Homo sapiens: one gene and its partner. The protein of the gene in region 1 purifies or fractionates together with the protein of each later gene. This does not show direct contact. Each region holds a gene or a part of one and is shown on either strand. Other genes may lie near its edges.

The links. The genes of interacting proteins can lie anywhere in the genome.
Region 2: the proteins of TNNI3K (region 1) and ASB3 purify together in Homo sapiens (affinity purification with mass spectrometry, with the first as the bait; 2 studies listed by BioGRID). This does not show direct contact.

What each region holds. Positions count from the first base shown.
Region 1 is NC_000001.11:74,230,650-74,238,396, reverse strand, and holds the start of TNNI3K (serine/threonine-protein kinase TNNI3K), read right to left. Parts: upstream 3,011-7,747; 5' UTR 2,946-3,010; coding exon 2,906-2,945; intron 2,296-2,905; coding exon 2,187-2,295; intron 1-2,186. Other genes in the region: FPGT-TNNI3K fusion protein, read right to left, coding at 2,187-2,295. UniProt on the Homo sapiens protein: May play a role in cardiac physiology.
Region 2 is NC_000002.12:53,776,928-53,783,953, reverse strand, and holds part of ASB3 (ankyrin repeat and SOCS box protein 3), read left to right. Parts: intron 1-7,026. UniProt on the Homo sapiens protein: Probable substrate-recognition component of a SCF-like ECS (Elongin-Cullin-SOCS-box protein) E3 ubiquitin-protein ligase complex which mediates the ubiquitination and subsequent proteasomal degradation of target proteins. Recognizes TNFRSF1B.

The sequences.
Region 1 (7,747 bases):
CTGTACTTAGTATTTAATTTACCTCATTTTGAAAATATCCTGTGAGGTGATTATTATTCACCTCATTTTATAGATGAAAATGAGGATTAAGGAGATTAAAAAACATATCCATGGATATACAGCTTATAAATAGAAGAAGCTGTATTTAAAACCATGTTTGTATGACTCCAAAATTCTTACATTGATTCACATAGCTTTCTTACTCAAGTCAGATAATATGGTGAAGACATTATTTTTTCTCACTTTTCCTAAACTTTCTATGGTACTCATTCATTCTTGCCTACACACCTTTACTTAACTATGCTTTTTATCTACAATGATTCCAAAAATCAATGAATAAATCAGGACCTAAATCTTGTTTTTGTAAGCAGGGTATGGTAGGAAGAGCGCTATCTATGGAGTCAGGCAGACCTTGACACAAATCACATTCCAGAATTTACTGACCATGTGACTTGACAACTCCCACTGCCTTGTCTCTAATCCTTAGTTTATCATCCACCGGAGTTAATATTATTCGGCACACATGAAATGACAACAATCTACATATGACTATAGATTAAATAATGTCTTGTATTTGATGTATCCAGAACAACACTTGAATACGAGCTGGCACTCAACAAATTCTGGACTGTAAGCTCCCTGACACAGATTCCTGCATCTCACCCCCAATGCTAATCAGAAAAAAGAAGGTCACATTTGTTGCATTTAGTAGAAACACAGGAAAAGTCCATTATAGCAGTTGTCAAAACAGCTTGTAGTTGTCGATGTGGTATCAGAAAGAACCTACATTTTAAATCCATTGTTAATCCTAATATTCAGGTTTGGATACATCTAGTTTAAGCTAGCCTTCACCTATGTGCTCAATACTTTCTAAATTAAAAAATAATACTAAATAACTGAGGCTTTGACCTTTAAAAGTTGAGGAAAATCTCTTCAATGTAATCATATTTCATTTAGCATATTTATTTAAGTCAATAAGAGCTAGATGTTTATGATTAATTTCTATATTCATACTTTTCCAACAAAACAAATACATATTTATAATTCTACTGTACTAACATGCCAGTCATATTTCTACAGGAATTTCAAATGTAGTTCCATATCTCAACATGTGATACTACTTGCAAAAGTCAGATCAGTGGTATCTCATCACAAGTGTCAGTGTTGAGTTCATCATCCTGGGCCAAACTATAAAGAGAACCAACTACTTTTTGAACCATAAGTTGAACACTTGTGAAAGCCTTGTTACATCCATTGACGAATTTCATATAAACTATATTATACATGGGTGATTTTATTTGCCAATTATGTGATATTTATATGTTTACTATATCTAAAATTTTATTTTAAAGATGTGTCATTTGGTCATTGCTTTACACTTGTTTTCTAAGTAAAATAGAGGGAGTTCTTTGCCATGAGTGCATTACATAACACAGCTATAAATGAACATGGCTAATTGGCCTATATGGAACTTTTCCTTAGTCAGGCAGGTAACTTTCTTGACCCTCTAATGGGCATCTAGTTTCTCAATGTCAGATTCAATTTAACCAGAAGGCTTTTTGTGTATATAAGGGTCTTGCTCCTCTTTTCTGAACATTTTGTGTCTTCCAAGGTTGTGACACTTAGATTATTTTTCTCTTGTTATCATGGAACAAAATCTACTGAAATCCTGAAGGCAATATTATATGTTGTTATATGATTGTTCAGGGGCAGAATGATACTCAGTTCCATTAAGGGACAGCCTTTCAATGTCAAGAGACCAGAGGGTTTGTTAAAATTGGACTTACCGTCATAGTTCAAAGAGAACAATGTGGCCAATATGCGACCACTATGTGGGAAGAAAAATCTTGCTTTTCATTGCCGGCATGGTTTACAAGAATGATCTAATTCCTGAGAAGATTACTGAGATCAACAATAGCTTGCATTCAAAGGCTAGCCTTTAGGTTTTTATTTTTAAACTTTAATGATGGCAGATTACAATTTATATTTTAAGGAGGTGAGATGTTATGTTTGCATTTTGAGAGCTATATGAGTGGTCAAAGAGAGATAATCTGACATCCTAAGGCTTAGAACATGACTGCTTATGTCTGAGGTTCTACGGGTTTAAAAAATATACAGATACTTTAAAAAATAAGGTGAATACTGAAGACACTTATACAAAGAAATAATGACTCTTACAACTTTACCCAAATATATTCCTTAGTTCTGTCAGTTCTTTTTCCTTGATCTGCAGGTCATCTTCTAATCTTTCTATTGTGATAACATATGATTCACTGACTTTTTTCTTCCATTCATCTAGTAAAGAAGAACAAATGAGATTGATTCATAGTTGTGTTTTGCAAAATGTAGACACAGATCATAACATACAAGTAATCAAAACTGTTTTTTATTCTAGATTCTACAATACTTAATTTAAATTACTGATTGTGTGTTTAAAATGCAGATGTTTATATTTAAAATGCAATCATATTGAATTGTAGTAATGAAGAACCCATTCGATATTGGATAATATATTTACATAGAAAAATATATTTGACTTATTTCATTTGATTTTATTGCATTTTAATTATAGCAATCTCTAGTTGCAAGACGGTTTTTAGTTTTTAAATACTAGATACTTAAGATATAATTCTAAAATCCCTACATTCAGCAATATTCCAAATTTTTTTCTGTAACATTATACCAAGGAACTAAAATAATATTTTTGTAAGAAATTTCTTGTTTCCTATAAAGATCTTCAGAAAAAAATAATTTGAGTTCAGATAGTTTTTCAAAGACTTTCACAAAACATGCTGCCTTATCTTCCGTATACAAATTAACACATATTCCAATGAGTTGTTAGTTATCAGTAACTATAATTGAACCATATTACACTTAAGGAAATAAGAATAATTAGAATAATTACCAGTACAAGTTTGGGTTGGTCTAGATTTATAATTTCCCATTTATTATAAGTTTCTTCCTTTCTCCAGGGCAGTTCTTCAAGTTATAAGATTCCAAGTTCAAGTGCAGTGACAGTCCAGTTGAAAAATACTTTGATAGTCTGGCTAAAAATAAGCCCAACTGCCAAATGGAATGTCATGCAACAATGATAAAGAACAAAATCGTGTGTGCTTTCGAGGGTGAAATCATAAAGGGAACTAATCAGTCTGTTTAAAAGAACTGTATCAAAAATAAATAGCAAATGTTTCAATAGGATTATTTGCTTCCATCAATTATCTACCCATACATACTTTCATGGACCATTTATTTAACAGATAAATCTAGAAAATGATTCAGTTACATCCGAAGTTCACAAAAGAGCTGTTAAAACTACATAGACCTGTTTTCAAGATCATTTTCTCCTAAGCCAAAATAATGGCAGTTGGTAAAGAGTGGTAATAGAATGTGTCTACATACATAAATAAATAATAAAAATTCATTACCTCTAGCATATAACTAATAGAAATGAATGCAGGTTTGGCCTGTATAAGAGCTACATAATTATGTTTGTATGAAGAAATTCTCAACATAGACCAAGATTTATACTATTGTGGATTATTCCGACCATAAGAATCATAGATCAGAATGTAAAACATTAAGTTCTACAAATAGCAATTCGTAAAATAATAAATGACAAGAACAGTAAGATTAAGAATAAGAAAATTGAGCATTTGCTATGTGTCAGACCCTAGTTTACATGCTTTACATATATCTCATTATTTAATCTCATACATACAGTGCTGCTAGGTAGATATTATTCACAAATTATGGATGAGAAAACACAAAGTTACTAGTAAGTTGGAAGTCTGGAATCAGTTCTGACCATGTGACTCTAATATCCAAGCTAGATATTATTGATTTGTCTTCCAGAATTTCTCTTTCATGCACCTTCCATTTACTTTATTAGGACATTTCTCTTTGTATGCATATTGTATGCCTATTTCTACTGATATAAAGAACCCAGTCTATGATGGAGAATAAATGGGAAACCCAGAAAGAAAACATTAAATTTTTCACTATATATTTATTTCAGATAATCTTCTTATACCTAGAAAGTATAAATTTTAATCTTCAGATTCACATCCAGAGGATATAGCTTTAACTTAACAGATACAGATTTCATATTTTCTATAGTTAAATGTTCAAACAACTCTCTTTTTGAATAAATGATTAGACAAAGTTAGGACTCACCATATATTTTTGCTCAGCAAAAGTAATAGAAGTTTCAGAGGTAAGGCTTCCAGACTGATGAGATATAGTTGGCGCATCAGGTGTCTGGCTTCATAGACACTTTTTGTCCTCATCTGGACATATTCTCCTTTTCCCTTCTTATCAGTACATGCCTACCACAGCTGTTGATACTTGCTATACTGCAGTGGCATCTGGTTACCTTGGTCCATACACTCTACATTCTCCTTGTTTGAAAACCAGACATCTTCAGTTCCACCAGCTTTCTCTAAGCACTTCTGTGACCCCCATTTTCTCAGTTTGGAAAGTCTTTGTTTTGTCCAGGGACCTTCCTGCTTAATCTCTTCTTCCTTATCTTGAAGACCATACTGGATAGCTTTCTTTAAAAGACTTGCAATCTCCCAGGGCTACACTTTAGGAAATAATGCACCAGCTCTTTCTCCTCTCAGAGTTTCTTAAAATAATCATGGTTTCTATACTCTGAATCCAGAAGGACAAAGATGGGAGCCTTCTAGAGGACAACTAAATATATTTTTCTTGATCTCTTTTCTTATTTCTAATATCTCGGATCTTCCATCCGTGTGTGTGTGTGTACATGTATGTTTTCCACATATGGAGGAAAAATTAGCTCTTACATCATCTTCCACTGTGTTTCTAATTTCCTGCTTGGGACACAAGTCTGATGTACTGCTTTTTAGAATTTTTCCTTTTGATTTTCAAGAATACTTTTATTCTCTTAAAAAGCCTAGGTTTTACAAATGAAAGCTTTGGCTTTCAAAGGTGTGATTTCTGCGATGAGTTTGAAAATCCAATCAGCAACTCAGTTGAATTCTCCCACATTCTAATGCAATACATTTTGCTGGAAATAAAATGAAACGATAGCAATATAAGAAATGCAGAAAATTACTCAAAATATTACCCAAAATATTAACCACTATTGAACTATAACAGTTTCCTGGTTTGAAAGAAACAATATTTATCTCTAAGCCCTTCTTAAGAATGTGGATCTAGGTAATGGTTTGAGGTACTAGAGTAATTTTTTCTGGGTACCTTCAGCCTGATGAAGAAATGCTGGAAATGTAAATGGTCCAGGATAATATCCTTGCATTCCTTTTCCAAAGAATGTTGGAAAGAAACAACATAGAATCAAAAAATATTTTCCCTAATACTCAGTACATTTCTGTAAAAAGTACTTCTTTCTAATAAAGAGTTGGCCACATACTCTAAGTTGAATCCTACTTTCCCCAGTCCTGAGACGTCCAAAAGTGGAGAAAGCATGTTATATCATACATTATCAAAAACACAACTTGATTACAAAAGTAGTCTGCTTTCAAAGTTTAGTGAGGGTAGGCAACATGAGGAGCTTTGTTTAAAAAAATAGAAACCTGGGCTCCATCCCCAGAAATTCTGATTCAGTACATCAAGAGTAGAGCCCAGGAATCTGAACTTTAACAAGCAACTCTGATGATTCTAATGTAGATGCTACTTGGAGCATCATTTAAGAAGCACTATTTTAAGGTTGCTTAAAGTGAGATGCTACTTAACAGAAATTTTTTTACCTTTGAATTTCATGCAAGAGAAAAGAGATAAGTAGAATAAAAACAAAAGAAAGATTACTTCAGATTATCAAAGAGTTCTATCCTGTGGTAATTCCTGGGGCAATACATGATTTGGCTATGCAAGTATAGTCTCGTATTTTAAAAGTGATTCACAAAAATTGAACCAACCAAGATATTCCTTCATAAGTGAATGGAGAGACAAACTGTGGTATATCCAGAATATGGAAGATTATTCAGCAATGAAAAGAAAGGAGCCATGAAAATTCATGGAAGAACTTTAAATGTATATCACTAAGTGAAATAAGCCAGTCTGATAAGGCTACATCCTGTGTGATTTCAACTATATGACATTTTGGAAAAGGCAAAACTATACAAACCATAAAAAGATCAGTGGTTACAGGGGTAGAGGAGAGGAAGAGATGAGTAGGTGAAGCACAGGAAATCTTTAGAGTAGAGAAATATTCTGTATGATACTCTAATGGTGGATACATGACATTATCCATTTGGCAAAAATCATAGAACTACACAACACTAACGTAAACTATGGACTTTAGTTAAAAATCATTTATCAATATTGGTTCATTCATGTTAACAAATATACTATATAAGATGTTAATAAGAAAAATTGTGTGTGTGTAGGGGGAGTATATAGTAACTCTGTACTTTCTGATCCATGTTTTTTGTAAACTGAAAACAATTCTAACAAAATATTAATTTAAAAAATTATGGAAAAATATAAAACAAATGATGCAAAAAATAATAATTCCTTAAAAAGAGCATTTGAAGTACTCAAGGAAATTTAATAATTTATAAAGAAAAGCCAACTCAAATACATGATTAATAGTAAGGTTTCTTTCTTTTATGCTTGCTCGTTTCTTCATTAGAAAATGTCAGAACACATTTATGAAATATTATTTCTTCAACTACTTTGTTTCAACTAAGTTTGATATTCTACTGAATTGCCTAAATCTAGTTTTAATGCCTCTGTCTTTTCAACTGATTTCTCAGACCACTTCTGCATACAAATAGTTATATTCTAATACTCCTTCAATAAACCCACTTATGTTCTTTCTGCATTATTTTATTTGGGGTTTATACGATTTATTTATCCCAATCTACACTTACGCATCTGCTATTTATATTTATTTTATACTGATTTCTTTATAAAGATTTAAAAGGATGCTTTCAAAATGAAAAACGTAAAAATTGACCTTGACACTTCTACCTTTATGGTTCCAACAGAGAAATGATAAAAGAAAATGTATCCCATGAAATCAAACTAATGCACTTGGAACAATTATTATCACATTTAGAAGTTGAATTAATTTATACTTTGATAATTTCTTCATTGTATATTAGTCCTTATTAATATATTTCCATGTTTTGGGGAAGCATAGAGTTTCAATGCGTTGCATCTGGTTGACAAATTAATCATTGCTTTAAACATAAGAAGGTGGAATTACTAGTTAGTTTATATTTAGGTTTTTTTCCTTTATTTTTAATAAAGATTAAATAATTTGTGTTGAAATAAAATTATTTTAAAAATAAATTGACCATTGCCTAAGATGCATACAACTATTCAAGTGCACACAATTATTTGATTAATTTTCTTTTAAATAATGTGTTTCTGCATTTAAACAAGCATAATTTGTAAGAGTCTTATTTATCAAACAATTTTCTTTCTTTTTCACTAGAATATCTAAGTTTTTAGTATGTTGGATGATGTATAAATCACCATCATCAGTCTGAACATGTTGAGGTAATATTCAGATTAATCCTCAAAAATGAGTAAGACTTGAGAATACATTATAATGAATATATATTTATAATATGATAATATAATGTCACAGTAATTTAAGTATGTGTTCTCAGTATCTTTAACTGTCAGAGTATATTTTAAAAAGGAATAAACAATATTGCTATTTCTGTGTCCAATAAAGTATAACAGCAAATGCAAAGATCATAGTTTTTCCTGTGATTTCCTTTGTTGGTGGGTAAACATGAAATAAAGTTGATTA
Region 2 (7,026 bases), on another chromosome or scaffold:
TTTACTGAGATTTTTTTGTATCATGCCTGGGTTAGGTCTACTGCTTTATGTATTCCATGTCCTCATTTGTCATAGATTTTTTTCCCACCTTGTAGGGGTATAACTAATTTCAAGCAATTTTTTTCAGGAAGGATTAAACAGGTAATTTAATTTCCACAGACTTCATATGTCTGAAAATGCCTTTACCTTGCCTGCTCATTTAATGATAGCTTGGGAATAGACTTAGTCCACAATCATTTTGTTTTCTTCAAAACTCTGAAGACATTCTCTTGCTTTTTGTGTCTAGTGTATCTGATGACAAGTCTAATGCCAGTCTCTTTCTTTTGCAGGTATCATACTTTTTTCTCTGGAAGATTTTATTAGACTGTTTTCTTTATCATTGGTTCTGTGATATTTTATCAGTGTTTCTAGGTGGTGAATCTTTTTTCATTCATCCTTCTTGGCACTCTATGAATCCTATTTTTCACTTCTGGGAAATTTTCTTCAATTATTTCTTTAATTATGTTCTTGACATTTTCTCTGTTCTATTCAGAATTTAGATAGGTTCTTCCAAATACATTTAGATAGATTCTTCCAAATACAGAGGAAAAATATAAAAAGAAAAAATACATAATACGAAGGATCAATCCAAGAGGTCCATTTCCTTGATTTTCAGTTCTTTTCACTTTCTTTTTTCAGTGGTTTTTTCCCCACAGTTTCTAGTCATCTAGTTATTTTTAATGGATGCATTGTTCTCATGACATGAATTTCTTTGAGGATAACACTTATAACTTTTAAATATTTATGTCCCATTCCCGGAAATAGCTCTGCTTCTTTCAGGTCAGTTGTTTATTTTCATCCTTTCTGTCTGTTGTGCTTTTACTTCAAAAAAAAAAATTCTTGGCGGGGCATAGTGGCTCACACCGGTAATTCCAGCACTTTGAGAGATCACCTGAGGTCTGGAAGGTCAAGACCAGCCTGGCCAACATGGTGAAACCCTGTCTCTCCGAAAATAAAAAAATTAGCCGGAAGTCTTGGCAGGCTTCTGTAATCCCAGCTACTCAAGAGGCTGGGGCAGGAGAATCACTTAAACCTGGGAGGCGGAGGTTGCAGTGAGCCGAGATTGCGCCATTGCACTCCAGCCTGGATGACAAAAGTGAAACTTCATCTAAAAAAAAAAAAATTATTGAGCTCTTTTGTAAGTGAGCAGGGTACTAGCTGTTGGGTCTAACTTTAGGGTCCTTGAGTGAAGTGCAAGAAACGAGTTGCCTCTTTCCTCCTCTCCTTCCACCCTGTACCCAAATAAGGAATGCTTTGTTATGGAACATGAAGATGCTCAAAGGCTTCCAGGGTAGACTGTTAAATTAAAAAGAGCAATAACAACAAAATAGATGTGGTTTTAGCCAGAAACAAATACTGTTGCTGCCAGGCGTTTTGTGTGTAAAGGGCTGTGGTAAAAAGTTTGGCTTGCTGTTTCATATAAATATTATAATAATTCTGATTTTAGTCCTACGTCCTTCCTCTGCTTGTTTCTAAGATTGGTACCTCTCCAGGCTCTGCTGGCAAGAATGTCTTCTACATTGCTATAGCCTTCTCATGTATGCATGTGTGTGTGTTCTGGACTGCAGTTTTCTCTGCACTGGCTTAATCCTCAGCATAATCCTACCTGCTTTCTCTTCCAGAATGAATGAGTGCATTTCAGTGCGATTTTGTTAGGAAGCGGAGGAAAATGTATGTGCTTAGTTTGCCTTGCATAGAGTGAGTAATCCATTGTTTTTTTGTTTGTTTGTTTGTTTTTGAGACAGGGTCTCGCTTTGTCACCCGGGCTAGAGTGCAGTTGCATGATCACTGCTCACTGCCATCCCAACCTCTGGGGCTCAAGCGATCCTCCCATCACCTCAGCCTCCTGAGTAGCTGGGACTACAGGTGTGCACCAGCCTGCCTAGCTAATTTTTTTATTTTTTGAATTCTTGGTTTCCCAGAGTGTTGGGATTACAGATGTGAGCCATGGCACCCAGCCAGTACTTGTTGAATAAATCAATGCTGTTGAAAAAATTGGGCAAGGCATACTGTTGTTTAAAAAGAAAATTATGGCTGTAGGAGATAAGTAATTAGGTGAATCTTTTAAATCCTGTTTTAAAAAGTCCTATTTTATTTTGTCCTAATTAAAAAAGAATCTCCGCCGGGCGTGGTGGCTCACGCCTGTAATCCCAGCACTTTGGGAGGCTGAGGCAGGCGGATCACCTGAGGTTGGGAATTCAAGACCAGCCTGACCAACCTGGAGAAACCCTGTCTCTCCTGAAAATAGAAAATTAGACAGGCGTGGTGGCTCATGCCTGTAATCTCAGCTACTCTGGAGGCTGAAGCAGGAGAATCACTTGAACCTGGGAGGCAGACATTGTGGTGAGCCAAGATGGCGCCATTGTACTCCAGACTGGGCAACAAGAGTGAAACTCTGTCTCAAAAGAAAAAAAAAATGGAAAGAATCTCAAAGGGGTTAAGCCCTACCAATGGAGGTACAAAATGAGATAACTACCATCTCTCACTTTTTTTTTTTTTTTTGGAGACAGAGTCTCACTTTGTTGCCTAGACTAGAGTGCAATGGCATGGTTTTGGCTCATTGTAGCCTCAACCTCCTGGGCTAAAGTGATCCTCCCACCTCAGCCTTCTCAGTAGCTGGAACTACAGGTGTGCACCACCACGCCTGGCTAATTTTTTTTGTATTTTTTGTAAGAGATAGGGTTTTGCCATGTTGCCCAGGCTGGTCTTGAACTCCTGGGCTCAAGTGATTTGCCCCCTCAAGCCTCCCAAAGTGCTGGGATTACAGGTGTGAGCCACTTGCCCGGCTTCCTTTTTTGTTCTTTTTAAAATTGTAGGCCTTAATTTCATTTTGTTCCTGTTCAGTGCTTAGCACAGTTCCTGGCATGTTGTAAATGTTCAATAAATGATACTACATTTGTTTTACTTAAGCAATTTTCATCATCGTAGAAAATAAGGATTAAATGAGTTAATATACATAAAGCACTTGGAATAGAATCTAGCATATAGTTAGTGCTACATAAGTGTTAACCATTATTCTCTGACACATGAACACCTTTTTGTTTTTTCTATGAAGCTTTCTCTGATTCTGCTACTTTGAATTGGTAATTTGCCTTTCTGTATTCTGGTTGTATTTTATTTATTTGTTATTAGTTTTAGAGACAGAGTATTGCTGTGTTGTTCAGGCTGAAGTGTAGGGGCCTTATGATAGCTCACTGCAGCCTTGAACTTCTGGGCTCAAGAGATCCTTCTGCTTTATCCTCCAGAGTGGCTAGGACTGCAGACATGTGCCACTATGCCCAGCTAATTTTTACATTTTTGTAGAGACATGGTCTCACTATATTGCCCAGGCTGGTCTCAAACTACTGACTTCAAGTGATCCCCTTGCTTTGGCCTCCCAAATTGCTGAGATTACAGGCACGAGCACCATACCCACCCCTCTGCTTGTATTTTATATCACATCTTTTATATTAAATAACATAGATTTGTTTGCTTGTGTGTTTCTCCACCAAATATGATTCTTGATAGCCGGGGACTATCTTATTTATTTTGGTGGTCTCAGTGCATAGTCATTGCTTGCCACATAACATTAGTTCGCTCATTTGAGCTAGGTCTTAAAGAATGAGGAGGGTGGTGTGATTGGAGCATGAGGGGCAGGGGAGTACGTCAGTGGGAAGTGAAATTTGACAAATACACTGATACCAGATTGACCAGATGGTAAGTAGTTGAATGCCAGATTAAAGGATTTGAATTTATTTTATATGCAGCAGGAAGACATTTTGATTACTGACCTCAGTTTCATATTTTAGGTAAGTAATTCTGAGTGCACAGTAGAGCGTGTATTGGAAAGAGGAAAAGAGATTGGAAACAAGAAGAATATGTAAGAAACTCTGGCTCTTGATGTATGATAAGGCTCTTTAGTTGAGAATCTTTCAGCATGTAACCTTTTACTATCATGTAATCTTTTAAGCCTTATCACAAAAAGCCTTCAGGGCTTCCTTGGTAACTTCATTTTGACTTTGTTAAAAGAAAAACTTTAGACGAAATCAATTTATCAGAATTTGTTTTTGTGTTAAAGGATTAATGAATTTGGCAGCACCCAAAATTAGAAGTAGTTCAGGGAGCTCTTGTTTTAACAGAGTAAGCGGCAGACCTTTGCAGGCTGAATGTGGAAGCGAAGTAAAGAAATTACTTGATTGGACTGGGCATAGTGGCTCATACCTGTAATCCCATCATTTTGGGAGGCTGAGGTAGGTGGATCACTTGAGCTCAGGAGTTCAAGACCAGCCTGGGCAACATGGTGAAACTCCATCTCTACAAAAAATGCAAAAATTAGCCAGGCATGGTGGCACATGCCAGTAGTCCCAGCTACTTGGGAGGCTGAGGTGGGAGGATTGCTTGAGCCTGGGAGGTTGAGGCTGCAGTGAGTTGTGATTGTGCCACTGCACTCCAGCCTGGGCAACAGAGCGAGACCCTGTCTTGAAAAAAAAAAAATTACTTGATTGTCATAGCTACTTGTTTGTCTTATTTGGGTACAATCTGGCAGAAAGTTGCTTGTTAGAGAATAGTTGTTGGTTTCTGATTAAAATTAAGTTGTGACATCCTATGGATTGGGAGGAAATATTTGCAAGCCATACATGAGATAAGGGATTAAAATTCAGAATATAAAAGGAACTCAAATAACTCTATAGAAAGAATACAAATAATCCAGTTAAAAAATGGGCAAGGAACCTGTATAGACATTTCTCAAAAGAAGACATACAAATGGCCAACAGATACATGAAAAAATGTTCAACATTACTAATCATCAGGGAAATGCAAATTAAAACCACTATGAGATATCACCCCAATATGTGTCAGAATGGCTACTATCAAACAGATGAAAGATAAGTGTTGGCAAGGCATGTGGAGAAAGGGGAACCTCTGTACACTGTTAATGGCAATGTAAATTAGTACAACCGTTATGGAAAACAGTGGCAGTTCCTCAAAAAACTAAAAATAGAATTACCATATGATCCAGCAATCCAACTTCTGGGTATTTACCTAAAAGATTGGAAATCAGTATGTTGAAGAGATATCTGCACTCCCATGTTCATTGCAGCATTAATCACAATAGCCAAGATACGGAATCAACCTAAGGGTCCTTAGACAGATGAATGGATAAAGAAAAATCTGGTGTACATACGTAGTGGAATACTATTCAGCCTTAAAAATGAAAGAAACTTTGTCATTTGTGACGACATGGATGGATTGGAGAACATTAAGCTAAATGAGATAAGCCAAGTACAAGCAGACAAACAACATATGTGCTTACTTATATATTTAATCTAAAACCGTTGAACTAAAAGAAGCAGAGAGTAGAACAGTGGTTACCAGGGTTGGAGGGAAGGCATGGGGGAATGGGGAGATGATAGTCAAAGGGGAGGAATTTTTTTCTTTGAGATATGTTGCACAGTATGGTGAATATAGTGACTAATAATGTACTTTATACTTGCTAAGAGTAACTTTTAAAAGTTTTCACTACAAAAAAAATTTGAGGTCATGGATATGTTAACTAGATTTAATTATTCCACATTGTATTCATAAATCATCACTTTGTACCTCATAAATATATAACTATAGTCAGTTTATAATTAAAAAATAAAAAGCAAAGATTAAGTTTTGTTTCACTGTTTACATTGGGCTTCAGTTTGCTTACATAGGAACCCAGAGTCCTAGGACCATCTTAGCCAAATGGCCTCCAATTAAAGATTGCTTACACTCTTTTTTTTTTTTTTTTTTTTTTTGAGACAAGAATCCTGCTCTGTTGCGCAGGCTGGAGTGCAGTGGCGCCATCTTGGCTCACTGCAACCTCTGCCTCCTGGGTTCAAGCAATTCTCCTGGCTTAGCCTCCCAAGTAGCTGGGACTACAGGTGCCCGCCACCACACCTGGCTAATTTTTTTGTATTTTTGGTAGAGACGGGGTTTCACCATATTGGTCAGGCAGGTCTCGAACTCCTGACTTCAGGCGATCCACCCGCCTTGGTCTCCCAAAGTGCTGGGATTACAGGCGTTAGCTACCACACCTGGCCAAGATTGCTTACACTTTTTAAAAAATGTTATATTGTTTTTAGTAAAACAAAGGGTAAAATTTAATAAAAAGGCACAAACACATTTTGTGTATATTGTGAAAATACCATCTATTTCCTCCAAAAGCTTATAAATTGATATGAGTATCATAAACCTGTTTATTTTTCTCCTGGACTAAGTATTGTTCAACGTTTAATGTGTATTATGTACAGGGAGGTAATGTGGGACCAGATTTTCTGGTTGGGAAAGGAGATGAGTACTGGTTTTAGTACAATAAGTTTCCATGCTTGTGTAGCACAACTGGAGATGCCTTCATGTAACAGACATATGAAGAGGTTGAGAGAGTAGGCTGGAGATTGGAAGCTATCCAAGTAAAATTGAAGCCTAGGATTTGATGAGTTTGTGTATTTGATAAAGAATAGTGTAAGAGTTGTAACTGGAAACACAATGAAATGTTTTTGTCTTTGGCTTTAGTGACATGGGATGCTTGATCACTAGTGTCTGATGCACCAGAGAAGCATGAAAATTGCAATCTTTGGGTTCAGTGAGGAAGTGGTCATTGGAGACTTGATACTATAATGATTGGGTGGTATGGCAGAGTAAAGTTGAATTGGAAAGGGATTAAGACGAGTTGATAAGGAAGTGAAGCACTGTGTAGTTAAAAAATTTCTGTGAAGAATAAGAAAGCTGGAAGAACACAAGAAACTGTAGGATTAGTGGTGGTTTTTCCAGTTACAGTGTGTGTACATGTGTGGGCGAACCATTTATAAAGAGAAGGAGGCTCAGTACAATTAAGTAAAACAACCAAGAAAATGAAACTGAAATATAGTATTTTAGAAAGGTAAAATGAACCATAGGAATGAAAAGTCCCTGAAATCCAATAAAGCTAATTTTCATCATATAAATTTGACATACAGAAGAAAAATTTTGGTATTTTAA